Homo sapiens: one gene and its partners. The protein of the gene in region 3 interacts with the protein of the main gene of each other region in a pairwise test. Each region holds a gene or a part of one and is shown on either strand. Other genes may lie near its edges. The genes, in order: PKNOX2, PKNOX1, PBX4 and CCM2L.

The links.
Region 1: the proteins of PBX4 (region 3) and PKNOX2 interact in binary tests that used the Homo sapiens proteins (3 or more experiments, as listed by UniProt).
Region 2: the proteins of PBX4 (region 3) and PKNOX1 interact in binary tests that used the Homo sapiens proteins (3 or more experiments, as listed by UniProt).
Region 4: the proteins of PBX4 (region 3) and CCM2L interact in binary tests that used the Homo sapiens proteins (3 or more experiments, as listed by UniProt).

What each region holds. Positions count from the first base shown.
Region 1 is NC_000011.10:125,391,611-125,399,343, reverse strand, and holds part of PKNOX2 (homeobox protein PKNOX2), read right to left. Parts: intron 3,370-7,733; exon of another isoform or gene 3,248-3,369; intron 1,471-3,247; coding exon 1,282-1,470; intron 1-1,281.
Region 2 is NC_000021.9:43,026,323-43,034,055, reverse strand, and holds the end of PKNOX1 (homeobox protein PKNOX1), read right to left. Parts: intron 5,355-7,733; coding exon 5,182-5,354; intron 4,167-5,181; coding exon 3,955-4,166; 3' UTR 125-3,954; downstream 1-124. UniProt on the Homo sapiens protein: Activates transcription in the presence of PBX1A and HOXA1.
Region 3 is NC_000019.10:19,594,195-19,601,927, forward strand, and holds part of PBX4 (pre-B-cell leukemia transcription factor 4), read right to left. Parts: intron 5,175-7,733; exon of another isoform or gene 5,172-5,174; coding exon 5,098-5,171; intron 1-5,097.
Region 4 is NC_000020.11:32,020,013-32,027,745, reverse strand, and holds part of CCM2L (cerebral cavernous malformations 2 protein-like), read right to left. Parts: intron 5,087-7,733; coding exon 4,951-5,086; intron 1,891-4,950; coding exon 1,827-1,890; intron 1-1,826.

The DNA of each region.
Region 1 (7,733 bases), on a different chromosome or scaffold from region 3:
GATCATAAGGGAAAGTACAATAAGACTCTGAAGGAATGAGTCTATTTCAAGAGAATATTAGCAGGCAGAAGCCCGGGCGGGTGTTTTTAGATCTGTAATAAAGTGACTTGGTGATTTCAAGCGAGAGGAAGAGGAAGTAAACTTCTTGCCCTATGTCCTGGGCAGTACTCACTACGGAGTCTCACAAAGAGCCCACTGGGGTGGGTTGGATGTGATACCGAGTGTATCTTTTGTGCTTGTTGTCAAAATGTGCAAAGCAAGGCTGGCCTTCTAGAAGTCAGCCTGTCCCCTCCCCTGACTCCACCAATCTGGGGAGATAGAGTACATGGGTGGTTCCTTAGGGGTCTAGGGACAAAAACGGCACAGCCTTTCTTTGGCACTACTTCCAGCACCTCTCGGCACTCACTCCTAGAAAGTTTACCTGCATCCCCATGCCTGATTGTTTAATGAGAAGAGGCTACAGAGGACTCCTTGGGGACCCTCCAGGTGTCTTCCAGGACTCAGGAGCTCAGTGGAAGGGGAACAAAGTCTCAAGCCTGTGGCTTATGCAGATGTCTGTGAGTTGGGCGGGAAGGTATTGCCAGGCAGCTTTCTCGGTTTGTAGGTTTGGGGAAAATATCCTGCCCTGGAGGGGAAACCCCATCTTGCCCAAAGCGTGTAGTCAGCATTTCTGCATTTCCCAGGTCTCAGGAAGGAGGTGGCAGGGGAACCTGGGAACAGGGTGGTTTGAGGTGACCTTGACCATGGCCCTGAACCTTAGGGGGACAGAGATGCCAGAGTAGCGTGAGTGCCTGGAGAATGATTAGGGAGCAGCAGGCCCATGGGAAGCTGGCTTCACCCATTAGGTGGGCAGGATTCAGGGAATGACTGCTTTCCCCAAATGCCCTTTCCCAGAAATGCAGATGGCTCAGCAAGCCGCAGCCTCTTAAGAAGCCTGTCCCAGCTCATCCTCCAGGAGAGCTTTCCTTCTCCTTAGCTCTGGTGCTCATTCTGGGGGATACCTTGGGCCAGGAAGCCAGGAATGATTTTGGACATTGTCCCTCTCCGATCTGGTCATTTTCAAGGGAATACTAATGCCCTGGCAGGGCAGACTGTGTGTAAAAAAGGGATGGGATGGCCTAATGGATATGAAGAAGAGTGCATCAGAGGAGGGCCCTCATGGCAAAGGAACCCAGTGGGTCTAACCCAGTGAAGGTCACCAGGGGACCTTCCTCCACGCGTGGCTCCAGAGCTGGGCTTAGGAGCCTGGCTTAAGAGATGGGACCCAGCTCTGGGTGTTACCTGTGAGTGAAGGTTGATGGAGGGCTGGTTGGGGGAGTAGGGCCCCCCTAGATCATTCCTGAGCAGGTTGTCGCTGTGCATCTTGGTTTTGAGGCAGGTGATGTAACGGTTACAAAAGTCCTTGCAGAGTTCATTGACTTTCTCCAGCTCCAGCAGGTGGATTCTCAGGACCTGGATTGCCTTCACCATCTGTGGAGAGGGAGGAGAGGTGAGCCCAGGTGTTTGCATCCCATTTCCCTCACTGCCTGGACCCCCAGCCCCCACCACCCCAGGGGAGGGGAGCCCACCCCCTGCCGTAGCTCATGCTTCCTACACTTGATCTTGGCCAAAAGGCCCAGAAGTGGTAGGCGGTGCCTTCTCATCCCCATGACTTCAGTTCTAATGATGGCTCTCTGCTAATTATTCCTTTGCTCTGAGCCCTCTGTTATCACAGCTGTTCTTGAGGCAGTTGTGGTATTCTGAGAACAGCATTGGCCTTAGCGATGGGAGGCCAGGTCCAAGCCCCCGGCCTGTCATTTACTATCTGTGTGAGCTTGGGCAAGTTGCTCAAGCTCTCTGTGCCTTAGTGGCTAACAAATGGGGATAATTAGATTCTCCCTGACAACTTTACAGGTTTGTTGTGAGTATTGTATGAGGGCGTATACATGGTAGCACATTGTGAGGTGTGAAGGACCAGGCAAGCCTGAGGAAGATGGAGATCAGAATTTCTTATAAGTGCCTCTAGAGCTCAGGGACTGTCTATTCTTAAACAAGCATTCTGAGTGCCTCATGGGATACCGGTTACCTTGTGGACGCTCTGTGGATACTTGCTGATGGACTGAATAATCCAGCATGACTTAGCTGGGCACCAGCTACCTCACTGTCTGCTGTGGCCTTTTCCATGCCCTTTGGATTGCTGTACGGGAGCCTGCTGCCTCTTCAAATGGACATTCCTAACCTTTTCGTGGCAAGAAGCTATTTTGCAATTGAAGCTTTGCTCTTTACTGCTGTTATTATCATAAAAAGAAAATACTATGGAAGGTATGGAAAGCAGGGTGAAAAAAACCTGTCTTCGATCCAATCGCCTTAAAGAATGATTTTTTCCTACACCCATATATTTTAACATAGTTTCAATAACCTTGTGCATGCAATTTTGTTTTCTGTTTTTTCCCTCTAGTTTAGCAAATCTATTTTTCTAAGTGCCAGAATTGTTTTCTCTATCCTCTCTTCTAGACTATGAGCTTTGAGAAGGCAGGGATGATGTCTAATTTGCTCACCATGTTATCTTCAGCACGAACACATATGGATATGGAGTAAACATTTGCTGAATGGGTGAAAGTTATTGAGTAAACATATTTTTAAATGTTGCATATTATTTCATGTGTGTGCCATACTTAACCAGTCTCCTATTGTTAGGTATTTAGATTACTTCCAATTTTTCAATTTTATAAAAAATGTTACAGTGAATATTTTCTAAGCTTATAGCTTTTTTTTTTTTTTTTTAAAAGTTTCTGCATTATTCTTTAGGATGAATTCCCAGAAGTGACAGGAAAAAAAGCTATGAACGTTCTTGTGGATTATGATAAATATTGCCAAATTGCTTTTCAACAGGGGGTTGTTCAAATGGTGCTAGAATAATTAGACATCCACATGCAAAAAAACTGAATCTTGATTTAAACCTCATACCTTAGATGAGATTAACTCAAAATGGATCAAAGACATAAATGTAAGACAGAAAACTATAAACCTCTTAAAAAAAAACAGGAAAAAATCTTCAGGATCTAGGGTGAGGCAAAGAGATCTTAGAGTTGACACCAAAAGCATGATCCAGGCTGGGCACAGTGGCTCACGCCTGTAATCCCAGCACTTTGGGACATCGAGGCAGGAGGATCACTTGAGGTCAGGAGTTTGAGACCAGCCTGGCCAACATGGTGAAACCCCATATCTACTAAAATTACAAAAATTAGCCAGTGGTGGTTGTGCATGCCTGAAGTCCCAGCTACTTGGGAGGCTGAGGCAGGAGAATCGCTTGAACCCAGGAGGTGGACGTTACAGTGAGCCGAGATGGAGCCACTGCACTCCAGCTTGGGCGACAGAGCGCAACTCCATCTAAAAAAAAAAAAAAAAAAAGATGATCCAGTGAGGAACTGGACGCTGTCAAAATTAAAAATGTTTACTCTTCAAAAGACCCTGTGAAGAAGAGGAAAAGACTACATACTGGAGGAGAATATTTGCAAACCAAGTACCTGACAAAGGACTTGTATCTAGGATATATAAAGAACTCTCAAAACAAAACAGTAAAATAACAAGCAACCCAATTAGAACATGGTCATAAGACATGATTAGACATTTCACTGAAGAGGATATACAGATGGCAAATAAGCACAAGAGAAGATATTCAATGTCATTAGTCACTAGGGAAATGCAAATTAAAACCACAATGAGATATCACTACACACCTATTGGTATGGTTAAAATAAAAGAAATAAATATGACAACACCAAATGCTGGTGAGGAACTGGAGACTAGAACACTCAGACATTGCTGTTAAGAGTGTAAAATGGTACAGCCACTCTGGAAAACAGTATGACAATTTCTTACAAAACTAAATATGTGCGTACCATATGACCCAGCAATTGTACTCTTGGGCATTTATCCCAGAGAAATAAAAACATATGTTCTTACAAAAACCTGTATACAAATTGTTCAAAGCAGCTTTACTTCTAATAGTCAAAAATCGGAAACAACCCAAATGTACTTCAATGGGTGAATGGATAAAGAAACTGTAATTCATCCATATCATGGAATATAACTCAGCAATAAAAAAGAATGAGCTATTGATATGCCCAACAATGTGGATAGATTGCAAGGGAATTTTCCTGAGAGACAAAAGCCAGTCTCAAAGGATTATATACTATATGATGCCATTTACAAAACGTTTTTGAAATGACAAAATTATAGAGATGGAAGACAGAAAGACAGATTAGTGGTTGACAGCGGTAGAGTGGAGGAGGGAGGGAGGAACTGTTCTGTACTTTGCTATAACAATGTTTATGTGGATCTAAGTATATGATAAAATTGCACAGAACTAATTACATGTACACACACACACACACACACACACGAGGGCACGTAAAACTGGTGAAATCTGAATACAGTTGGTGGATTGTTCCTGGCTGTGAAATTGTGCTATGGTTATACAAGATGTGAATCAGGAGCTCTCTGTATGAGTTCTTATAACTGCATGTGAATCTACATTTATATCAAAATTAAATGTAACCGCTAGGAGCGGGTGATGCTTATTGCTTTTCCAGATCCATTTATGTTGACGCAAGCAATATATGGGATCTCTTTTTAGTCCCACCCTCCTAGCTTTTGGCTAGCTCCTGGATGCCTAGAGGAGAGTTTGGACAATATAAAAAGGGATGGAAACAAGGAAGGAAATCTCTCCCAGAGAATTGTGACTGTGAGGTGTGTGTAGAGAAGTGTGGCTTGAAGCCAGCATTACACCCTTCTCTGAGCCTCATTGGCATTTCAAGTGGGGAGCCCACATTCCCTGGGCTGGGCTTGTGGCTTGTCTGATGAGCAGGGATTGTGCTCAACTAATTAAGGGTTTTTGGAGTACTAAATTAGACCAAGTGTCACTCAAAGACAGAAAGCAGCGATTGTGTGTCGTCATGCAGGGCTCAGTCACAAGGTCTCCTCCTAAGAAGTACCACCTCTGTGGGGCTGAGACTGAGGGAGACTGAGCCATCCTAAGCAAAGAGGAAAATTGTGACTTTAGAATGGATCATTTGGACCCCAAAGTGGAGTTAAGTACTTAATAAAGATTTGTTCTTGCCTAATGTTCTACTTGACTTTGGCCACGAACATCTTGGTCTATGTCTCTCAGTGTAATGAGCACAGGATAAGGTACTTAACACATATGCGTTGCTGGATTGTTAATAATACCCAAACGTTTCTTATTCAGACTGTGTCTCAGGCACTGTGTTAAGCCCATTCCAGGCCTTATTTATTCCACACAACCATCTCATTAAGTAGGTACCATTATTGCTCATATTTTGCATTTGAAGAAAATAAAATCCAAAAATATTACGTTTCCTTGCTTAGAGTCACACAACTGGTGAGCGATATGAAGCCAGGTTGCCCCACCCCCCACCCGTGTGCCTTGTCTTTCAATATGGACTCTCAGGATTATGTAGGTAGAGGAAGTGGTAGTATAAAGGGTGCGTGGTTTGGGAGAAAGTGGCTCAGTGACAGCAAGTACGGGGTTCTAGGAAGCCAAGTAGCTTTTGAGACATCAAAGTTTAGGATTTCCAGAACCCTTCCTGGTAATGTGCCTTTTCTCAGCTGCTCTGATCTCCCATCTCTCACTCCTGGCACAGCCCCCCGGGGTCCAAACACCTCACCAACACAGGTGCCTGCTTCTCCATGTGCACACGGAGAGGGCTGGACTGTCAGGTCCCTTACGTTTTCTGACTCTCTGAACATTACCAGGACTTCTGCCCTCAATTCACGCCTGATGGTGTTAGAATGAACCCCACACGGTGACCTGGACCAGCCTCTAGGTGGCTGCACAGTCCAAACTCATCAGGACACAGGCTGCATCTTCTCCTCCAGCCTCTCCCGGTCACTGGGCGATGACCTTGTTGCCTCGGACCTTCTCCATATTCTCTCAGTCTGCTGATTAGAAGCTTTTCCTTATATTCAATCAAAATCTCTCCCGCCTTAATGTAAAGTGCCTTCTGTAGGCACCAAGAACATCGAGGAACTTCTAGGACCTCTATCAACACAACTTCTTTTTAATTTAATTTTATTCATTCAACAAGTATTGAGTCTTACTATATGCCACATATTGGACCAGGCATCTGACTTGAACAAGTTGTTCAATTAACTTTCTCTTCTCTCTTTTTTTTTTTTTTTTTGAGACGAGTCTTGCTCTGTCGCCCAGGCTGGAGTGCAGTGGCGCGATCTCGACTCACTGCAAGCTCCACCTCCTGGTTCACGCCATTCTCCTGCCTCAGCCTCCCAAGCAGCTGGGACCACGCCCGCCACCACGCCGGGCTAATTTTTTTTTTTATGTATTTTTAGTAGAGACAGGGTTTCACTGTGTTTCCCAGGATAGTCTCGATCTCCTGACCTCATGATCCGCCCACCTTGGCCTCCCAAAGTGCTGGGATTACAGGCGTGAGCCACCGCGCCCGGCCAAACTTTCTCTTTTCTAGACAAAAACGATCGTCATTCCTTAAACCTTTCTTCTCTTTCCCTTCCCCGTTCCTTCTTTCCTCCCTCCTTTCTTTCCTTTTTTCCTTCTTTCTCACACACATACATATATTCACACATACACAGAGAAAAGTGCACTTACCTATTCATTTATTTTAAATATATAACCAATTTATACTTACTTTATAAAATCAGAAAATACAGGTAAGTAAAACAAAAGTAAAATATACTCAGAAGAGCTTTGCTCAAATAAAATACACGCACAGCATGTTTAAACCAGGTCTGGTGCACAGTGACCAAAAGTGGACTTATCCTTTGGTCTAATAAAGTGCAGCTGAAGGATTACTTTTTTATGGGCTAATGGAATTGGTTGAAAGATTTAAGGAGGTAGAGTAAATCATAATGGTATTCTGAGGCAATGAATATGTAGGACCTGTTCAATATTAGAAAGGTAGGCAACACTATCAATGTTAGAGGGCTGCCTGGCAGGGCAGGAACACTGTGGGTTCATTGTCAGGCAGCCTGGATTTGAGTCCGAGCCCGCTCTCTGTTAATTGGGTGCCGTTGGGCAAATTCCATGATTTCTCTGAGCCTCAGTCTCTTTACGTGTAAAATGGGGATAATGTTCATCTCTAACTCACAAGATTTGAAAGGGGCTAAAGGAGATAATGATGTAAACATGCTTTATAAACCACAGTAAACCAAATGCATGCAAGTTGTAAAAATAATCTCTTCTAATAATGTCTGATATCCCATTGGCTTTTCTACTGCTATTCTACGTCCAGCCAGTGAAAAAATAGTAACTCCAAGGGTCTTTTTTGCTCCCATATTTGTGTTTAGTAAATCATCCTCTATCCTGTGTTTACAATTTTGGATTTTTGTCTCCAAGTTAGAAAATTCTGATTTATTAAACTATTTTTCTAAATGATCGGGGTCATGTGAAAATTTATTCCAAATCTTCTAGGGCAATAACAATGCCACTTAATTCAACATCACCGCCAAATGTGGTGAATGCATCCTTAATTCCTCTCCCCAGGTGTTGCTCCATCTTTCAGCTTCTTTCCCTCCCTTCTCTTTCAAAATAATGATTCAGCCCTCTTTTTCTAAGAAGTCTGCATCAAAAAAGCAAAACAAATGCAACCTCACATTTTAGTCTCCTACCACTGTACACAAGTCTCACAGTCCCAGGAAAGTACACAAAAATGGGGTTTCTTATTTTCTATAAAGCCATGTCGTCTGATGTCCCACAC
Region 2 (7,733 bases), on a different chromosome or scaffold from region 3:
AGCCTCTAAGCATGAACAGTTGTTGGGAGTTATAACACTCTGGACAACAAAGATTAAAAACCCTCTGAAATTGTTTTAATGTACCTTTTAAATCTTCAGGAACTTTCTTGTCATGAAAATTTATAATATGAACTATGAAAGGGATTATGTTAGCTTACTGATGAATCATTATCTTCTTGTAACTATCAAAATAATTAGATTTGTGGAAAACTATAATAAAAAACATAAAAGCTACCTGTTTCCATTTTCTGCCTGAACAGCCAATGAATGAACAAAGTAAGGAATTTAAGAAAAGATTCTTGGACATGTAAATGGACCTGACTAGTCCGATGCAGTGTGGTCCTAGTTTCTCAATATGCAGGGGTGACTACAGACCCTACATGTCACCAGAAAACATGAAAACATTCTCAATGTTTTACATAAAATGGAGAAGCAGCTTTTGGTGACATGAGCTTTATAAAATAAAACATCCATAAAGCAAGTTTCTATTTTTAATTTTTTTGCTTTGATAAATCAATTGCTTCACAAAAATCCTTTTTAAAGACAACAATCCAAGAAAACATATTGTTACAGTATTCACATTTCAAAGATTGTCAGTTTCAAAGACCGAATATAACTAGAACGAAAGATTGCTGAGTTCTTTCTGTCTCTAAGTGCCAGGAATGGGCCTTCACAAGGGGCAGAACCCCCTCTGGACACCCTGGAGTTTGTCTCAATGAAAAGTGCCCACTGCTACCTCACACAGGCAGGAGATGGATCACTCTCAGGTCACACAGACACAACTCCCAGAGCCCTTAGCCGTGAGGGTTTCTTTTGCATGCTCGATAAACACTTCCACTCATCTTACTATCTGGAATCAAAGCGCAAAGGCCAAGCTAGTCCCTCGGTGGGAGCGAGCTGGAACCCAGCACAGCCAGCCCTGCCACTCCTGCTCCACAGGTGCAGGGCAGGAATAACAGCAACATGCTCAATTTGGGTCTCAAGACACATTCAAAAGGAGCCTTCATAGGGAAAAACTCAACAAGAATAAAACTGGAACCGAATCTGATCATTTAAAACGAAATCTTAGAGGGGGTCACACTTTTACAGATTCTCTCCACTGTCCAAGGGCTGGAGAACAGGTGTTTTAAGGTGCCAACTGACCTCAAACATGCTGGGCAGTGATTTTGCAAACTGAAACAGCTTGCCATGTAGAAGCTAGTTAAAAGCACCCATTGCAGAGAGGTTAAAGGAAACTCAGGCTATGTCCATAAGCACCCTTTCTCTAAGTGATCTTTATCCTATTCCTCTGAATTTAGTAAGAATTTAGGAAAGTTGAAGAAAGTTTGCAGCTGGAGAGAATGCACACTGTATCATTCAGCATGGGTGTTTAACTCTCAGGCCAGAGCTTCCCAGTGCCACCGAGGTTCAGGCAGTGCTCTCTTTTTATAGATGGGGGTCTCACTGTGTTGCCCAAGATGGAGTGCAGTGGCTATTCACAGGTGCAAGCATAGTGCACTGCAGCCTCAAACTCCTGGCACATGCCATCCTCTGCCTCAGACTCCCGAGTAGCTGGAACTAGAGGCACGCCCTACTGCGCCGGGCAGGGGCAGCACTCTTAAATTCAATCCACTGCTTAGTGAATGTGATTTCTAGTGGGGGAAAGAAACGGTGACCTATACATGAGTCTACATTCTGTGAATGGCTTCCACTAATCTACACTAAAGAGCAAGCAGCCGAAGAGACGGAGGGTGGTGAGGGAAGGAGGAAGGGCTGGCTGGCTTTCATGGGTGCTTATTTTAAGGAGTCCAACAAAGTTGGAACTTAGGTTAAAAATGATCTTATAGACTTGACTTAAAATATGAGAAGACAGTTCACAAATGAGGAACGCAATGGTGGCTTTAAGATGTCATTCTCGGCCGGGCGCGGTGGCTCACACCTGTAATCCCAGCACTTTGGGAGGCTGAGGCAGGCAGATCACCTGAGGTCGGGAGTTCGAGACCAGCCCGACCAACATGGAGAAACCCATCTCTACTAAAAATACAAAATTAGCCGGGTGTGGTGGCGCATGCCTGTAATCCCAGCTACTCAGGAGGCTAAGGAAGGAGAATTGCTTGAACATAAGAGGTGGAGGTTGCAGTGAGCTGAGATTGCACCATTGCCCTCCAGCCTGGGCAACAAGAGCAAAACTCTGTCTCAAAAAAAAAATGTCATTCTCTCCCCAAAAGACTTGATAACCAAGTCTTTCAGTAAAGCTCCTGAAAGATTTTAAAACAAATTTCTGTGTGTTTCCCACTGACTTCTTAACCTCAATTAATATATTCTTTTGGGAAAAATCAATTCCAGAAAAAACTCTTCACTAGCTTAAAATGTCCCTTGGCTTACAACCAATCATTACTGTTGACTCTCAAGAACTGAAGACATTCCCGACCCTGTAAACAAATGAACTTCAGCCATACCATTTCAGATGATATGAAGACATTCTGTATGAAACACCGTGGCCTGTTTTCTGAGAAAAAGCACCACTCCTAAGTAAACAATGAAAACAAATCAAAACCAAAGAAAACAGAACCCAGCCCACTCTCTCGGTTCATCTTGTTACCAGGAAACAGAAGTCCTACAGTTATTCCAAATCTCACGTGGTCAAGTGAGCAGGAGGGCTCTGAAAAGTCGAAAGCAACAACGTACAAGAGAACACTGACACCAGGAGACCAGCCACAAACGCAAACGTAGGAGCCAACCCGTGGGGGCTGCCGAGGTGCCCTCGCCAGACCAGCTCGCTGCTGGGACTCCAGGGATGTCCGCTAGTTAAGTAATAAAGTCTGAATATCTGCTGTTTGCCCTAGCTCTGAGCCAATGGGGTAGAGCACATTTTATATTAGTTTATAATAAACATTCTGTGCATAACATATTTTGAAGTTAAAACTTTTAAAACAATACACAGCTAACATGGTAAAGCGACCATGCAACTGTGGTCAGATTTAAATTAGACTGGAGTATGTACGGTGAGAGCTCCTAACGGGTCACTGGCTACCATTTCACCTCACTTACCTGAAGTCCTGTTTAGCAGATATCTTTCGATATATGTTTAGATCAAGTGTAAAATGCAATCTGAGCATTACATATCAACAAAAATTTGCAGATATCAAAATTTCATTAAATAGCTGTTTCTTTTATAGTAGTAAATGTTCATCACTACCCGGGGAGAGCAAAGAACCATGGAACGGTAGCTAACTTTGGGCAGGTTCATTAAATTTGGTCAATTCAGAACATTCCAAATTGAAATATTAATAGCAAGCATGTATTGTTTCTTCTCTAGAAATTTTATCCTCAATATAGTCATCATCCAATTCATAACGAATTTATAAAAATAGCTTTTTTATCCAATAATTCCAGCAAGGTAAAAATAGGAGTTTCTTTTTCTATATAGCAAATGAAACAGGCTCACTGAACATGAGGGGACTTAGGCTTGCTAAGCTTGCCGTCCATCCACTCACGACGAAACCACACTCAGTCTAGGCGTGTGCCGTTGTCACCGCACACTGGCAGTTTCGGGTGCAGCAGCTTCTTTCAAATCCATGGGCCACACAAATCAACCAGCCCACTGAGATCTGCTGGAACCACAGAACTAAGTGACAACCGCATCACGGTTTAGAAAATGGCAGCGCTATTCCTTAATCTAATTAGGGATTCAAGGTGGGGAGGGAGTGGTGTGTCATTCCTCACAATCTAGCGTTAAACCTTTAAAGAATTTCTTTAAAAATCCACACACACGCACACACGCACACACACACACACACACACACACACACACACTTGAAAGAAGTCGCTGCACCGGCAAAGACGCGCTTTAAGCTTACTATGAAATACAAAAGTGCACTCTTCTATATCTACATATAAAACATATTAGAAATAAAACTGTGTAAAATGTTTGCTGTGCAAACTCCAAAAAGTCAGGTGCGTCTGCTCCTGCCCCTACTGCAGGGAGTCACTGTTCTCCAAGACCAGCCCGCTGATGTGGGCAGGGGCCAGGGCACCCGCATCCTCCTCTGTGCTGTCCACAGACTCGTCCTCGCTCTGCCCTGCCATCATGACCTGCTGCACCGCCAGGGTGGCCCCGTCCGAGGACAGAGACTGAAGGCTGTCCACGTTCATGTTCACGGGCGTGGTGATGGTGACAACAGCTCCTGCGGCAGGATGAAGGTGTGTCATTATTTAAATTAGTACTCACAGAAAAACACTTTATTACTCAATTGGGTGCTGTTTGCTCGTTTGACCTAAAGTTAAAATAAAACACCTATATATGTTTAGGGAATGTTCAACAGGGATTTAAGAAACTGTTTCTGGGCCGGGCGCGGTAGCTCATGCCTGTAATCCCAGCACTTTGGGAGGCTGAGGCAGGCGGATAACGAGGTCAGGAGATCAAGACCATCCTGGTGAACACGGTGAAACCCCGTCTCTACTAAAAATACAAAAAATTAGCCGGGCGTGGTGGCAGGCACCTGTAGCTACTCCGAGCTACTCGGGAGGCTGAGGCAGGAGAATGGCGGGAACCTGGTAGGCAGAGGTTTCAGTGAGCCGAGATTGCGCCATTGCACTCCAGCCTGGGCAACAGAGTGAGACTCTGTCTCAAAAAAAAAAAAAAAAAAAAACAAAGCAAACAAATAAAAAAAAATAAAAACACATGCACACAAAACCATCCAAAATATGAAGACCTCATGCGAACAGAAAGATGCCTATAAAACACATCAGAATGGCTGCCTACGTCAGGGGATGGAGAGCAGAGGCCACAGGGAACAAGCAAAAACAAGAGAAGGGCATGGGGGATGAAGAGAAAGAAGCCACGTGGTGAGAACGGGGTAAGTCCCTCCTCCACACCCGGCGTCGGAGGGAAAAGGAGAGCAAACACAGAAGCAAAGGAGAAGATCCATGGGCATGACTGTGTCTTTGAGACAGAATTAATGATTTCATATCTCTATCACGTGTTTTACATTCTCTACTACTGGTGCTCCTAACTCTTACTGAGAGCTCCCGTGCACGCAGAATGCAGCTTCCTCATGTTTTAGTTGCAGAGAAAGAGAACCACGCACTCTCGTTCACCACATTACCTGAGGCTCACAGCTAACAGGCCTGATCCAGGCCTCTTGTTCATAATCCCCACCCCATGGTCCACCATGTCTGGCCTTGGCCGGCCACCTGTACCTTCCGACATGGTGAGCTCGCTCGGCGGTGGCTGTGCGACTCCTGATGCAATAGAATCAGGCCAAAACCTCTGAACTGGCCGGTTCTGAGCAGTTTTTTTCTTTGTTTTGGGGGTCTCTGAACAACTTGAATCCAACATTGGCTGAAGAATTCGTCTTCTGGCATTGATGAACCTGGAGTCAACAAAGAGAAGCTTCCATGAAAACAGCCTTCGTAAAGACCCTATACAGGATTAACAAATCCTTCTAACAAACACGCTGCTCTACGAAGCACGCTACAAAGAATGACTCAAGTTCTCCACTATAGTAACTACTTAAGAGGACTCAACAGCTCTTCTGAATTCTCTAAATGCCCAGAAACACAGAGCCTGTTGTTTTAAAAATCATGCAAATAAGCACCAACTCGTCCATGGCATTTTTTTTTTTGTCTCAACTCCTTTAGGGCATGTTTGTGAACTAGATACTCATAACGACATAGATGATACTGTTGAATTTGTGAATCTGACACTGTTTTCCCTAAGGAAGAAAAATGTTAAAGAAGCAAGACTTTCTGTAGTGCCATCATGCCTGAGACGATCGGGCAGTCTGCACTCGTCTGGACGTCACCAGATCACCAACGGGGCCGAGCCTCTGGGTGGCAACGTGTCTGAGCCATCAGAGAATGGGACTGCCACCTCCTCTTGTTTCACCACAAAGCACGATCTAAGGCAAGAGCTGCATCTTTTCAAAAACCATTCCCAATGATGAGCTGTTTCTTAGATGACTGGAGGCGTAAGTCCTCCAGTGGTCCTAGACATGTGGCCAGCACAGCACGTAGGCACCAGCAGTGATGAAATCCCCGACAGACGCTGGCGACTCTGTCAGACCAGGCACTCACGCCTGTGATAAGACTCCACAGAGAACGAGAGCAGCAACAATCACAGGCTGGCAGGGCAGGCTGGACATTGTTTCTGTATTTTTGAGATGGAGTCTCGCCCTGTCGCACAGGCTGGAGTGCAGTGGCACGATCTCAGCTCACCGCAACCTCCGCCTCCTGGGTTTAAGCGATTCTGCTGCCTCAGCCTCCTGAGTAGGTGGGACTATAGGCGCCCACCACCTCGCCCAGCTCATTTTTGTATTTTTAGTAAACGGGGTTACACCATGTTGGCCAAGATGGTCTCGATCTCTTCACCTTGTGATCTGCCTGCCTTGGTCTCCGAAAGTGCTGGGATTACAGATGTGAGCCACTGCACCTGGCCCAACAGTCACAGGTTGGCAAGGCAGGCTGGACATTGTTTCATATCAAATGAGTATGATAGCAATCTCAAAATACATTAAGATTAAAGGCTGCTGTCTTCAGTTCCCATTCTTATGCTATGAGCTGTTGCCTTTAAATGTGAGAAAGTGCAAGGAGACTCAAATCCCTAGGCCAGCTTTTCCTCCTGCAGTGACTAGAGGACAAAGATAGCAAACCAGACATGCGTTCTGCTGCACCCACCACCCTATGCCACTGACTGGGCCACTTTGCTACAAAAAGAGCTGAAATGGAAAGAAACGGAAAGAAAAACAACATCTGTCCCGTGAAAGCGCCTATCAAACCAGAACCCGTCCAGATTCATGCATTACCCCAACCTAACGCAAAAGCAGCAATACCAACCATGCTTAAGGCCTCGTTTCTGTCTTCTTTTTTCAGTAACATGAATGATAAAGTAGTTGACCTCTTGCTAGAGTCACACATTGCTCATCTATTAAAAGCCAGACTTCTCTATCTGGATAGCTGAGTAGCCATGTTCACGATATCAGGGAAACAAAAGCATTACTTTTAGACTCAGATTCTACTCTGGTTTGTCACTGTGACAACTTCTTTCTTTTTTTAATGCCCCCCTCTGCAAAACAACAACACTAGAACTGGATCAGCTCTAAGGTTGCTTAATTTTAAAAGTCCAAGATTTAAAAATATCTACAATTATATTAGCACACAGTCTAATAATAATGAAGCAGATCGGATCCCGCCATGCTTCATTTAGAGGAACCTGGTGATCCCTGCAGCACAAGCTCCATGGCCACCCACAACCCCAGCGAGACCTGGGAGGGAAGGCCCCACTGCTACTGTAATGTGTTGGTTGTTTTCTTTTTTTTTGAGACTGAGTCTCACCCTGTCGCCCAGGCTGGAGTGCAATGGTGCGATCTGGGCTCACTGCAACCTCCACCTCCCGAGTTCAAGCCATTCTACTGCCTTAGCCTCCTCAGTAGCTGGGATTACAGGTGTGCACCACCACACGCAGCTAATTTTTCTATTTTTAGTAGAGACAGGATTTCACCATGTTGGTCAGGCTGGTATTGAACTCCTGACCTCGTGATCTGCCCACCTCGGCCTCCCAAAGTGCTGGGATTACAGGTGTGAGCCACCGCGCCTGGCCTGTAATGTGTTTTTAAATCATTCTTATTCAAAGCTGCTACCAGCAGAGGCATGAACTAATGATGGGTGTGTGTATCTCACTCCAAGATGTAATGTTTGTAAATACAAAAGAAAAGAAAGTCACAAAAAGTAAAAGTAGCTACAAATATTAAAGA
Region 3 (7,733 bases):
CAAGAGTTCAAGACCAGCCTGACCAACAGGGTGAAACCCTGTCTCTACTAAATACAAAAAATTAGCCGGGTGTGGTGGCAGATGCCTGTAATCCCAACTACTCGGGAGGCTGAGGCAGGAAAATTGCTTGAACCTGGGAGGCAGTGAGCCGAGATTGCGCCATTGCACTCCAGCCTAGGCAACAAGAGTGAAACTCTGTCTAAAAAAAAAAAAAAAAGAGTCCTGAGCATGGCCCTCAAAGCCTAGGCAGATGGGGGTAGGGAGGTGGGGCGACACCAGCGGTTGAAATGGACAGACATCTCAGCTGCACTGGCAACAGTTGGTATCAACTCTTGTTTTCCCTCCTGAAACTGCTGAATTTGAGACTAACAGACTCATGCAGTAACATCCACACAGGGGCAGATGGAATTATGAAGAGGCGTGCCCAGGCTGAACACCCACACTCTCAAAAATTGGTTTCTCGTTCAGCCCCAGCAGCTCACTGGTAGGAAGGTCAAGAATGACAGCTTCCTGAGACTACAGTTGATTAAAGTACTTTTTTTTTTTAGACAGGGTCTCACTCTGTCACCCAGGCTGGAGTGCAGTGGCGCAATGTCATCTCACTGCAACCTCTGCCTCCTGGGTTCAAGTGATACTCCTGCCTCAGCCTCCTGAGTAACTGGGATTACAGGCGCATGCCACCACGCCCAGCTAATTTTTGTATTTTTAGTAGAGACGGGGTTTCATCATGTTGGTCAGGCTGGTCTCGAACTCCTGATCTCAGGTGGTCCAACTGCCTCGGCCTCCCAAAGTGCTGGGATTACAGGCGTGAGCCACCGCACCCAGCCTTTAAAAAGTACTTTTTAAAATAGTTTTTTATTATTACTAAATTCCAGATGTTGCATTGCTAAACATCCGCTGTGGGCAGTGGGGAGCCCCCAAAGGCTGCTTCCTGGGGTCAGGGTCAGGGGTGAGCAAGGGACAACTTGGGCTGCCTGTGCCTATTGGTACACATGCCTCAGCAAGTGGTCCTGACACTGGCTTATTTTTATTAGGTGAAAAGTGAAAGGGACCAACATTACACAATTCCACAATACTAAGAAACACGTGACCACAGCCAGTGTCTCCAGGGGGTGGATACACATTGGCTGTGTCCTTCTGAGCGGCTTCCCTCAGCCTGCAGTACTTGGGGCTCATTCGGGTACAGGGCCCCCGCTTGTCCAGCTTACCACACGAATGCTGAAGCACCATCAGGGAGTGCTGCCAGGGAGTTGAGGGCAAATTTGCTTAAAACCAGTTCACCGCTAACAAGAAACTTGTGTGTCTGGTTCCCCAGGAAAGCCTAACCTTTGTGTTTCCATTTCCATGGCATCTGCTCCCCACAATTTAAATAAGGAACAGATAAGACAGGTCATCAGATATTTACATACCCATGAGAGGCATATGAGGTGGGCAGGAAGCCAGGGGCATCACAGCCCAGCATCTGGCCCCGTCGGGAGGATGACCTGGCACTGGGTGTTGGAGACCAACAGGGGGCATATCATGTGGGGGCTGTCAGCAGCAGCAGTCTGCTGGGGGGTGGGGACAAGGAGGGGTCTGCTTGGCTGGGGGATTAAGTATACTTGGGGGTGAAGGAGGTGGGAGATTGATTACACAAGCAAAAGTACTGAGGACAACAGGAGCAGGCTCTCACTGTTGGAGGAAGGAGTCACAAACCTGGGAAGAGAGAAAAATAGTGGGAACCCTGTGGTGAACTAGAATTAAAGATATTGGAGTGGGCCAGGTACAGTGGCTCATGCATGTAATCCCAGCACTTTGGGAGGCCAAGGTGGGAGTATTGCTTGAGCCCAGGAGGTTGAGGCTGCAATGAGCTGTGACTTCACCACTGCATTCCAGCCTGGTGACAGAGTGAGACCCTGTCTCAAAAATAAAAATAAGCTGGGTGCGGTGGATCACATCTCTAATCCCAGCACTTTGGGAGGCTGAGGCGGGCAGGTCACTTGAGGTCAGGAGTTTGAGACGAGTCTGGCCAACATGATGAAACCCTGTCTCTACTAAAAATACAAAATTAGCCAGGCGTGGTGGTGCACACCATAATCCCAGCTACTCAGAGGCTGAGGCAGGAGAAATGCTTGAACCTGGGAGGCTGAGATTGCACCACTGCACTCCAGGCTGGGCAACAGAGTGAGAATAAATAAATAAATAAATAAATAAACAAACAAAAATAAAGATATCATAATGAACTCATGGTTTTTAATATATAAAAACATAGGAAAACAGATGTGAATGTGTGCGCACGTGTGTGTGTGTACACACGCATCTGTAATAACCCACAAATATTCCTTAGCTCTGTGTCCTAAGAGTGTCCAAGAGCAGCAACACCCCAACAGCAATGAGCACATCAAAGGCCAAGATTTACTCTGAAAGGAATCAGGGCTCCTTAGAGAATTGGGTGAAGCAGGCAGAGGCAGAACAGAATATGAGCCTGGTTGGGCACAGTGGCTCACACACATAATCCCAGCATTTTGGGAGGCCAGGAGTTTGAGACCAGCCTGGGCAACATGACAAAACCCTCTCTCTACAAAAAATACAAAAATTAGCTGGGCAACGTGGCTCGTGCCTGTAGTCCCAGCTACTTGGGAGGATGGGGTGTGAGGATCACCCACCCAGGAGGCTGAAGTGAGCCAAGATTATGTCACTGCCCTCCAGCCTGGGTGACAGAGTGAGACCCTGTCTCCAAAAAAAAAAAAAAAAGGCCAGGTGTGATGGCTCACGCCTGTAATCCCAGCACTTTGGGAGGCAGACAGGCAGGCGGATCACCTGAGGTCAGGAGTTCAAGACCAGCCTGGCCAACATGGTGAAACCCCATCTTTAATAAAAAATACAAAAAATTAGCTGGGTGTGGTGGCAGGCGCCTGTAATCCCGGCTACTCAGAGGCTGAGGCAGGAGAATTGCTTGAACCTGGAAGGCGGAGATTGCAGTGAGCCAAGATCGTGCCATTGCACTCCAGCCTGGGCAATAAGAGTGAAACTCCATCTCCAAAAAATAAAAATAAAAATAAATTTACACTGGGGAGGGTTAGGGACATCATGTCCTCATAGCATTTAGGCGAAACTTAAATGTAGATTTAAACTTGAATTTCTCCTTTAGTCACCAGATCTCTTCTGAAGGCTGGGCACCATGCCCACAGCCTTACATATATGAATTCACACAGCCCTCAACAGTCCTCAGTAACCATGAGCTAAGTATTATTATTGCCCCACAAATCAGAGGAGGACCAGGAACAGAGAAAGGTTCAGCCAAGGACCAGGGTCATGCAGCCAGAGGTGGAGGCAGAATTCAGACCCTCTTGCTGTTCTCAACTACTATATATGTCAAGTACACATCAATCTTGCACCAAAACAGTGTTCAGAAAGAAGCACACTTTTGTACAACATATACACACACTTTCCACAAGCCTCAGCAAATATGAAGTGCTATGCTCCAAAGTGACACACAAAATTCAAATAATTGACCTCAAGAGACCAACTCACTCTAAGAAATCAAGTGACACGTTGTGCAGATGACCCTTGGTTTAAATATCTTCATCTTATTTGGTGGCCCCACTTATAAGCTACTTTCAAATTGTTATTAACCTTGACCAAGTGATCAAGGTCAATGGTAGCAGTGACAGGACATATTGACAGCATGTTTTCCCTGACACAATGTGCTGAGGACACACACATTGCCTCTGTGGGACTCTGGCCACAGATGCACAACTTCAGTCCAATCTAGAGGAAACATCAGACAAACCGCACTGAGGGATGTTCTACAAAATGACTGAGCGCTTCTTAAAATGGTCAGCGTCATTCATGGATGACAAGGTCACAGATCACAGGAGACCAAAGAGACATGATGACTAAATACAACGTGGGATTCAGGGCAGAAAAGGGCATTAGGGCAAAAACTGGGGAACTCCAAATGAGGTCTGTAGTTCAGTTAAAGATCATTGTACTCAGCGTAATTTCCTGGTTTCCATATTTGTACTATGGCTCTGAAGGTGTTGACGAGACAGGAAGCCCGGAGAAGGAGATACGAGAACTCTCTGTACTATTTTTTCAACTTTTCTTTTTCTTTTCTTTCCTTTTTTTTTTTTTTTTTGAGACGGAGTCTTACTCTTCTTGCCCAGGCTGGAGTGCAATGGCGCGATCTCGGCTCACTGCAACCTCCACCTCCTGGGTTCAAGTGATTCTCCTGCCTCAGCCTCCCAAGTAGCTGGGATTACAGGCATGTGCCACCATGCCTGGCTAATTTTGTATTTTTAGTAGAGATGGGGGTTTCACCATCTTGGCCAGGCTGGTCTTGAACACCTGACCTCGTGATCCACCTGCCTCGGCCTCCCAAAGTACTGGGACTACAGGTATGAGCCACTGTGCCCAGCCGACAAAACTGTTCTTATTCAATTTCCCTAAGTCTGTCATTTTTCCTTTTTCTATATGACTGAATGCTAAGCACCTCTTAGGTCTTCGACCTAGAATGCAGCTGCTTGTTACTGATTTGCAACAGTATTTCTCAGTTATAAACTACAAAATAAATCAGTGTGCATACTGGAAACCAGGGCAATGATAAGGCAGAAAGAAAACATCCTAGCCGTCTTCTGCGAGACAGAAGGGATGAGCAAAACGGCCCACCATGCACATAAGGGCTGAGACAAGATCAGAGGTGTGCTGCCGCAGCTCTAGTCACACACAGGAAGTGCCTTTTTTTTTTTTTTTTTTTTTGAGACAGAATTTCACTCTTGTTGCCCAGGCTGGAGTGCAATGGCGTGATCTTGGCTCACCGCACACTCTTGTTGCCCAGGCTGGAGTGCAATGGCGCGATCTTGGCTCACCGCAACCTCCACCTCCCAGGTTCAAGCGATTCTCCTACCTTAGCCCCCCGAGTAGCTGGGATTACCGGCATGCGTCACCACGCCTGGCTAATTTTTGTATTTTTAATAGAGACAGGGTTTCTCCATGTTGGTCAGGCTGGTCTGGAATCCAGCCTCAGGTGATCTGCCCGCCTCCGCCTCCCAATGTGCTGGGATTACAGGCATGAGCCACCACGCTCGGCCAGAAAGTGTCTTCTAAACAGCCTACCTGTCTTTTCCTTGATCTCACAGAGCACGCTGAACAGAGCAGGCTTCATCCGATGGCAATTCAGAGCATGCTTTCTGAAAGGGAGGTGACAGAGGAGGGTGTGAGAAAAGAATAGTCATCATCTTGTCCCCAAGAGTAAAGATCTTCCATACTGAGAAATCAAACCAAACGAGATCTGCCACTCTGACTGTAGATAAGTCGCCTTATGAAAATGCAGTACAATCATATTTCATGTGAATTTGATTTGCACAAAATCAATATAAAGGCCAGCCGTGGTGGCTCACGCCTGTAATCCCAGCACTTTGGGAGGTCGAGGCAGGTGGATCACTTGAGGTCAGGAGTTTGAGACCAGCCTGGCCAGCATGGTGAAACCCTATCTCTATTAAAAATACAAAACTTGGCCAGGCACAGTGGCTCATGCCTATAATCCCAGAACTTTGGGAGGCCAAGGCAGGCGGATTGCCTGAGGTCAGGAGTTCGAGACCAGCCTGGCCAGCATGGTGAAACCCTGTCTCTACTAAAAATACAAAAATTAGTTGGGCATGGTGGTGCCCACCTGTAATCCCAGTTACTCAGGAGGCTGAGGCAGGAGAATTGCTTAGACCCGGGAGGCAGAGGTTGCAGTGAGCCGAGATCAGGCCACTGCACTCCAGCCTAAGTGACAGAGTGAGACTCCATCTCAAAAAAAAAAAAAAAAAAAATTCGCCAGGAACAGTGTCATGCACCTGTAATCCCAGCTACTCAGGTGGGTGAGGCAGGAGAAATGCTTAAACCTTGGAGGCAGAGGTTGCAGTGAGCCAAGATTGTGCCACTGTACTCCAGCCCAGGCAATAGAGTGAGACTCTGTCTCAATAATAATAATAATAATAATGTAAAGCAATATACAAATATTCAAAACATTTCCCACTATATGCAAAAGTTTAAACAATGCAAATAACTCATCAAAAACTATGGTAAGGCATTAGTGGCTCATGTCTGTAATCTCAACGCTTTGGGAGGCCAAGGCAGGAGGACCACTTGAGCCCAGAAATTTAAGATCGGCCTGGGCAACATGGTGAGACCCATTCTCTTCAAAAATTTAAAAATTAGCTGGGCATGGTGGTATGCCTGTAGTCCCAATCCCTCAGGAGGCTGAGACAGGAGGATGGCTTGAGACCATGAGTTAGAGGCTGTAGTGAGCTATGAACATGCCACTGTACTCCAGCCAGCATAACAGAGGCCTTGTCATTAAGAAAAAAAAAAAAAGGCCAGAGGCAGTGGCTCATGCCTGTAATCCCAGCACTTTGGGCGGCCGAGGCGGATGGATCGCCTGAGGTCAGGAATTTGAGACCAGCCTGGCCAACATGGTGAAACCCCGTCTCTACTAAAAGTACAAAAAAGCTGGGCGTGGTGGTGCACACCTGTAATCCCAGCTACTCGGGAGGCTGACACAGGAGAATTGCTTGAACCAGGGAGGCAGAGGTTGCAGTGAGCTGAGATCGCACCAGTGAACTCCAGCCTGGGCAACAGAGAGAGACTCCATCTCAAAAAAAAAAAAAAAAAAGAAAGAAAAAAAAAGAACTATGAAATATCAAGGTCCAACAACTTGAAATCTGTGTTCACACTATGGTCCTGCAGTGGTGTATCCTGGTGCCTAAGCAGAAGCACCAATCATCCTCTTCCAGTGTCACTTGGCAGGTGTTTACTGAGTACCTACTATGTGCCACACACCATTCTGGCATCAGAGACACAGACAGGTAAGGTTTTTACACATGTGGCAGTTAAGAGGGAGGGAGTGAGACACCAAAAATACACACCAACAAGAAACCCATCAGCCGTGGCAGTTGCTCTGGGGCAACTGGGGTCACATGACAGTGATGGTTAGAAGGCTTTTTGGAATTTCCATGTCTCTGAGGTGACATCAAAGCTGAGATCAGAATGAGAAGGAGAAATCAACCAAGAAAAGGACTGGAGAGAGGTATGGTTTAGGCAGAAGAAACAGCCAAGCACAAAGGCCCTGTGAGAACACACTGGGTTCAGTACTGGCTGTTTGAGACCAGGCTGCTGAGTGTTAGGGGTGAGGGAGAGAGCTACGAGAAGTTAGACTGGCAAGTGGAGATTGACTCTAAGGGCCTTGAAAGTCATGGGGACAACTCTGGCTTTTGCTTGCTTGGGTTGGGAACTATGGTTGGCAGGATAATGGCTCCCAAAAGGGTCCACATGCTTATCCTCAGAACCCTAAATATGGTACTTTACAAAAAATGGGAAAAATAATTCTGCCAATGTAATTAAGTTTAAGGACCTTGAGATGGAGAGATTAACCCGGATTATCTGGGGGGGCCTACTGTCATCACATGACCCTTAAAGGTAGAGAACCTTTCCCAGATGTGGGCAGAGAAAGTCATGATGATGTAAGGGTTGGAGAGATACTATGTTGCTGGCCTTGATCATGGAGGAAGGGACCATGAGCAAGGAATGCAGGTGGCCTCAACAGGCTGGAAAAGGCAAGGAACCAGCCCATGGGCTCACTGGGCAACACCTTGATTTTAGCCCACTGTGCCCATGTGGGCTTTCTGACCTACCGAAATGTAAAATCGGTGGCTCATGCCTGTAATTCTAGCATTTTGGGAGGCCGAGGCAGGCAGATCGCTGGAGCT
Region 4 (7,733 bases), on a different chromosome or scaffold from region 3:
GCCTCCTTGTCTCTAAATTGTTCCAGAACCATCCTCCATTATTACCTACAAAGAAGCCGTGTAGCTTTGTGGTTAAAGGACTGGATTCTGGAGCCAGCCTTCTTCTGTTCAAATCCCATACTTACAACTTACTAGGTGCTTGACCTTGGGAAAACTAAACTTAATTTCTCTATTTCTCAATTTTTCCATCTGTATAATGGGATAATAATAATTAGTGTCATCATGAGAATTAGAGGAGTTAATATTTGTAGAACACTTAGAATTATGGGCTATAAGCAATAAACAGTAGCTGCTGTAATGTTACTATGTTGATGAAAAAATAAAGTGCTTTATAGAACAGCACTTAGTACATAGCAAGTTCAATGTTCAAACGCTATTATCACTATTTTATCTCTTCAGTAGATATCTGGTTGTTTAAAGACTAGCCTAAGGGCATACAGTATGAGGAAGGCAAATCTATTGCCACTAAAAAGGAAAGAAACAATAAGACATATATCACTGGCAGAGACTGCTACATGCCAAACTGAAGCCCTTAGTAATATAACTAGGTGATCAACCAGTAACCCAGGACTTTCTTGGTTTTAGCACTGAAAATCCCATATCCGGGGGAACCCCTCATTCCTGAGCAAACTGGGATGGCTGGTCACCCTAAACAGAACCCTGGGTAATGTTCCCAACTGAATTGTTTAAAATTTTATTTATTTATTTGTTTATTTATTTATTTCAATAGAGACAGGGTCTCCCTATGTTGCCCAGACTGGTCTCAAACTTGTGGGCTCAAGTGATCCTCCTGCGTTGCCCTCCCAAAGTGTTGGGATTACAGGCGTGAGCCACCATGACTGGCCTGAATTTTTCTTTTTTTTTTTTTTTGAGATAGAGTCTCGCTCTGTCGCCCAGGCTGGAGTGCAGTGGCGCAATCTCAGCTCACTGTAAGCTCCGCCTCCTGGGTTCACGCCATTCTCCTGCCTCAGCCTCCCAAGTAGCTGGGACCACAGGTGTGCGCCACCATACCTGGCTAATTTTTGTATTTTTGGTGGAGATGGGGTTTCGCCATGTTGCCCAGGATGGTTTGGAACTCCCAGGCTCAAGCGATCCACCTGCCTCAGCCTCCCAAACTGTTGGGATTACAGGTGCGAGCCACCGCATCTAGCCTGAAATATATTTTTTTAATCCTAAATTTTCCAGCTTTGCTTGCAGCTAGTGATGGCTATGTGACCAAGTTCTGGCCTATGAGATATAAGCAGAAGTCATCAGGTGGGAATCTGGCAAAACTCTTTAAAGAGGCCCCTTAGCATGCTACTGTGATGGCTGGAGCTACAACCACCATCTCGGTCCATGAGGTGACCTTGAGGATGGCTGCAAGTCCTGAAGAGGGTAGGGAAGGAAAAGAGAAGCCTGAGCTCCTAACAACCATGAAATGTTGAATTGCTGCTCTATTTTATGTCAAATATAAGAAAAAAAAGTTCTATCTTGCTTAAGATACTCTTTTTGGGGATTTTCTATTACATGGAACCAAAATTAAGCCAAGATAATTTTTTTGGCATGTAGCTATGATTTTGGTTTCTGCAGACCACTGTGCCTGGATGACTGGGAGAGAACCACAGGACTGTGTGGACCCACATCTGAGTTCTGGTGTCTCCTGGGTCTCTCAAGGGTCTGGATCCTGTGGGTTTCCAGAGTCAGGGAGCTCAGTTTACCTCCCCCTCTTAGTGCCCAGTGTCTCAGCACACATCAAGGTTGGGTCACCTTCTCCTACCCTCTCTAGTCACCCTGTTTGTGCAGGGGTAGGGGAGCAGGGTGGAGTCCCTGACAGGGGCTGTACTCACAAGGAGCTGCAGCAGCTGAAGTCGGCATCATAGGCATACGTCCCATCTGTGTGGCAGCTCTCACCTGGGACCAGCAGACAGAGGGACTGTCAGAGGCAGCAAAGCAGGGATCAGCATCCCCTGCTCCCTGAGGCCCCACCCTCAGTCTCAGCCTGAAGTCTAGTCCTGCCTCTGACACCAACACACAACAGACCCTGGGGAACTCCCCTCCCCTCTCCTGATCCTCAACTTCCCCGATGTGGGGACAATACCACCCCCCACCTACCTCATAGGAGCCTTGGGAACAGCAGATGAGGAAACATGTGAGGGAATATTTTGTAAACTGTGTGTTTCAGGCAAGACAAAAAAAAAGAAAAAAAAATTTGTGGCTCACGCCTGTAATCCCAGCACTTTGGGAGGCCAAGGCAGGAGGACTGCTTGAGCCCAGGCTTCAAGACCAGCCTGGACAACATAGAGCGACCTTATTTCTACAATAACAAAAAAATTAGCTGGGTGCGGTGGTGCATGCCTGTGGTCCCGGCTACTTGAGAGGCTGACATAGAAGGACTGCTTGGGCCTGGGAGGTCGAGGCTGCAGAGAGCCGTGATTGTACCACTACAGTCCAGGCTGGGTGACAGAGCCAGACCCTGAAAAAAAATAAATAAAAGAAAAGAAAAAGAAAAGAAAAGAAAAAGAAAGAAAGAAAGAGGAAAGGAAAGGAAAGGAAAAAAGAAAGAAAGAAAAAGAGGAAAGGAAAGGAAAAAAGAAAGGAAAGAAAGAAAGAAAGGGGAAGGGGAAGGAAAAGAAAAGAAAGAAAGAAAGGGGAAGGGGAAGGAAAAGAAAAGAAAAGAAAGAGAGAAAGAAAGAAAGAAAGAAAGAAAGAAGAAGAAAGAGAGGAAGAAACTTGTGAAGGGGAAGGATCTGAAAACCTTCAGAGCAAAGAAACACCAAGTACGGAGAGCTTGCGCTCTTCCTAGTCCTGTTGTCTCATTTAGCTGGTTATTAGCCCTACCATTTCTGATCTCTGATCAGTGTTGCTTCCTTACCCTCCAGGTGGGGCCAGTTCCTCATTATACATTCTCCCAGCACAGTCTGTGGTTATTTATTTATTTTGAGGCAGAGTTTCGCTGTTGTCGCCCAGGCTGGAGTGCAGTGGTGTGATCTCTGCTCACTACAACCTCCACCTCCCAGGTTCGAGTGATTCTCCTGCCTCAGCCTCCCGAGTAGTTGGGATTACAGGTGCCTGCTACCATGCCCAGCTAATTTTTGTATTTTTAGTAGAGATGGGTTTTCACCATGTTGGCCAGGCTAGTCTCGAACTCCTGACCTCAGGTGATCCACCTGCCTTGGCCTCCCAAAGTGCTGGGATTACAGGTGTGAGCCACTGTGCCCAACCTGTGGTTGTGTATTTATTTGTGTACTTATTTAATCACTGTCAGCCTGCCTCCACTAAGTAAACTTCATGAAGACAGGCCACCTCTGGTTTTGCTCACCAGAATAACCTACTGATTAGCACTGGATCTGACCCACTAGGTGCTCAATAAATATTTGCTAAATGAATGAATTTGTTGAAATATTTGTTGAATTATCTCATTTATTTGCCTATCATCCTTGTGAGAGTTGAACTAACCCAGCCTCCCAACAAGCACAGCTCCCACAGATGCGAGGGTCTTCTGAAGAAAAGAACGAGCACTCTGCTGCTGGTACCATGCTGTGGGAGACAATGGCTGGGGAATTCACCCACTGGCCTGAAGGCAGCATGGGGAATAAGGTTGTTGCTGATAGAAGCTTCAGAATCAGACAGACCTGGATTTGAATCCTGACTCTGCCACTTACCAGCTGTGTGACCTTGAGTAATTTATTGACTAATCTGAGCCTTAATGTCCTCATCTGTAAAACTGGAATCGTGGCCAGGCGCGGTGGCTCATACCTGTAATCCCAGCACTTTGGGAGGCTGAGGCAGGCAGATCACGAGGTCAAGAGATCAAGACCACACTGGCCAACTAACATGGTGAAACCCCGTCTCTACTAAAAATACAAAAATTAGCTGGGCGTAGTGGCGCATGCCTGTAGTCCCAGCTACTCAGGAGGCTGAAGCAGGAGAATCACTTGAACCGGGAGGCAGAGGTTGCAATGAGCCGAGATCGTGCCACTGCACTCCAGCTCAGGCGACAGAGTGAGACTCCGTCTCAAACAAACAAACAACAACAACAACAAAAACCAACCAAACGAAAAAATGGGAATCCTAAGGCCTCAGAGAGTTCTTTCATCCATTCAGAAAAATACTTCATGAGTATCTGATGTACCCAGTCTCGTGCTAGGCACAGGGGATACAGTGACAAAGAGGACAGGCAAGGTTGCTATGAGGACATGGCACATTGGTACGGTGCTTGGCACACAACTGGTGCTCAACAAATGTCTCTATTAGTCTCATTCTCCTTCTAGTCCTTGAGTGCATCCAAGCACCCATCTGGAAATCTTGGTTTTGTGTTAGGGTCCTAGTGGGACCAATGGCTCAGTAAGCAGACAATACATGTGCTTAGGTTGCTGCAATATAGGGACACAAAAACAAAAGGGAGAGAGAAGAGTTCAGCTCTAGGGGGCTTGTTCTGAATTTGACAATCCAAACATCTTTGAAGAAGCTAAGTTTGAGATCATCATGAAAACTGATGGCTGGGTGCAGTGGCTCACGCCTGTAATCCCGGCACTTTGGGAGGCTGAGGCGGGTGGATCATGAGGTCAGGAGTTCAAGACCAGCCTGGTCAAGACGGTGAAACCCCGTCTCTAATAAAAATACAAAAAAAAAATTAGCTGGGTGTGGTGGCACATGCCTGTAATCCCAGCTACTCGGGAGACTGAGGCAGAGAATTGCTTGAACCCAGGAGGTGGAGGTTGCAGTGAGCCGAGATGGCATCACTGTACTCCAGCCTGGGGAACAGAGGGAGACTCTGTCTCAAAAAAGAAAAAAGAAAAGAAAAAGAAAAAGAAAATTGACATTTCACCTACAATTGTGGGGTACACTGTAATTATGGCAGAGATCAGGAGCCCTAAATACCTTCATCAGCCCAAGTCCTGGGACATCTTCCCTCCCCTGGCCTTTTTGGGATGTTTCACAGGAGGGGAGGCCAGGAGTTCTGGTACTCACTGCGGCTGCAGAGCCATGGCCGTTCAGGTGTGGATGTGTAGTGGTAGCCAGCCCGGTCCACACACTCAATACTCTGGTCCCCGTAGATGATCTGGAAGACCTGACAGATGAGTGCGCAGGACTCCTCTGCAGCGTCCTGGCCCAGGGAGGAGGAGAGAGAGCTCAGGTCCTCACCAATGACCAAGATGTTACCCTGCTTCCTAAAACAGTGTGTGAAGATGCGCACAAAGATACACACCTATAGAGCCCTTTAAATTGGCTTTCAAGAATTTTTCCATCAAAATTCGATGGCTACTCTCTGGATCTTAGAACCCCTTTATAGAATTCAGTGACAACTCTAACTCTTGTGCCATGAAAAATGTACCCCAGATTTGTGGAGGATTCATCAGCCTTCCTGATGCCCTTCTAAGATAAGTCCTAATTTAGTTTAATGTATAGATATGGAAACGGAGGCCCAGTGAGGGGAAGTGATTAGTCAGGATTAGAATCCAGTTCTCCTAACACCTAGTAGGAGAAGGGATGATTAAATGTATCAAAATTTTAGGCTCAATATAGTTACTAATACTGGAAGCCATATTTAGATATGAGCTTCCTAGCATTCAGTGTGAAAATGGAAACAGGATAAATAAAATTCAATCTCTGATAGAAGGAAGGAGTTTAAGTTCTTGGGTAAAACTTTTTTGAGACTACAAATGTGAATAGGTATTTAGTTCTTGAATTTACCTCTTTATGCCTTAAGCAAGACACACAGAAAACCAGTAATTGATGAAGACACTGTCTTCATGAACCTTTTCTCTATGTTGTGTCTGTAAAAAGGCCCAAGACAATGGATGGTTGGATACAAAAAATAAAAATAAAAAAGCCCAAAGAATAAATTAAAACGTAACCCAGGATAGGCATTTGGGGATAGTAGGTGTGTCCTAATAATTAAACCAGGTGATCCTTACCATAGACCTACAAAATGGACAGACAAAGATGCTGAGACTTAGAGTGGTTAAGTGCCTTGCCTAGGCTCACACAGCAGGTTCATGGCATTAGTACCAGCACCCAGGTTGTTTTTTACTCTAACTCCTATATCCTTCTTAGGACCAGGATGACTCAGATAAGAAGCCAGATGCTCAGACAACCCTGGAAAGCAACTTTTTTTTTTTGAGATAGAGTCACACTCCGGTCGCCCAGTGGCACAATCATGGCTCACTGCAGCCTCAACCTCCTGAGCTCAGGTGATCCTCCCACCTCAGCCTCCTGAGTAGCTGCATGACAGGCACACACCACCACGCCCAGATAATTTTTTGTATTTTTAGTAGAGACGGTGTTTTGCCATGTTGCCCAGGCTGGTCTGGAACTCCTGGGCTCTAGTGATCTCCCTGCCTCAGCCTCCCAAAGTGTTGGGATTACACTTATTTACTCACTCCACAAATTCCAACTTAGTCCTATTATGTGGCCGACACTGGGCCAGGTTCAGTACCGCAAAGCCCTCACAGTCCAGTGGGATGACTGTTAGCTTTGTCTGGAATCCTATTTCCAGCCACAGAGGAAGTGGGCATGGTGGCTGGAGTACAAATGGCCTTGTAAGCAATTGTAAGGATGTTAGCTTTTACTTGGAGTGAAATGGGAAGCCACTGGAAGATGTGGAGTAGTGACATGATGTGGCTTTCATGTTAACGGGACCACTCTGACTGTGTGGGGAAAGAGACTGTCAGCAAGGGCTGAACCAGTCAGAGGATGACCACATGATTCAGGTGAGAGAAAATGGGGCATGGACCTGGGTGGGTACAGGGGGAGGGTGGGGAGAAGTAAATGGATTTTGATGTTTTTTTGTTTTGTTTTGAGACGGAGTCTTGCTCTATTGCTCAGGCTGGAGTGCAGTGGTGCGGTCTACCTCCTGGGTTCAAGGGATTCTCGTGCTTCAGCCTCCCAAGTAGCTGAGATTACAGGCACCCGCCGCTATGCCTGGCTAATTTTTGTATTTTTCGTAGAGACGGGTTTCACCATGTTGGCCAGGCTGGTCTTAACTCCTCAACTCAGGTGATCCACCCGCCTCAGCCTCCCAAAGTGCTGGGATTACAGGCTTGGTTATGTTTTAAAAATAAGAGCCAACAGGATTTATTGACAGAGTGGATATGGGGTGTGTGTGAGAAAGAGAGAGCGTGAGAGCCAGCCAAGGCCCACAGCAAGGTTTTGGCCTGACCAATGTAAGGACACAGCTGCTATTAATTGTGACAGGGAAACCAAGGGAGTGGCAGGTTTTGGGGGAGGAGGTTGGAGCTCAGTTTTGGATGTGTTGGGTTTGAAACAGTCGTTAGATCTTCAGATGCAGATCACCTAGAAATGGGTAGATGAAGGATAGATGGAGGAGAGAAGAAGATCAAGGACAAAGTCTGGGGCACTCCAACTTCTGAAGAAGAGGAGGAACCAGCTTGGTAGGAGAAAAGCCTGGAAAAGGTGGAGAGCTGGAAGCCAAGTGAGGAAGTGTTTCAAGGGGAGAGAGACAGCTGTGGTGTCTGAGTTTACTGGTTATTATCTGCCTCACCATCTAGACAGGAACTATGTCTGTTTCATTCACCACTGTTTTTATACGGAGGGATCTGGTGGTCCAAGATCAGAGGAAAAGCTTAGAATGCTCAGAACTTGAAGGTGTCTGCTCGCCTGTGAGCTCCCTAAGGGTGGACACCAGATGTCTTTTTCACGTCTGTATCCATAGCACCTAGCCCATTGCCTAGCCCAGAGCTGGCACTCAAGAAACATGGTCGGGTGAATAAAAGCAAGGGTGAATGAAGAGG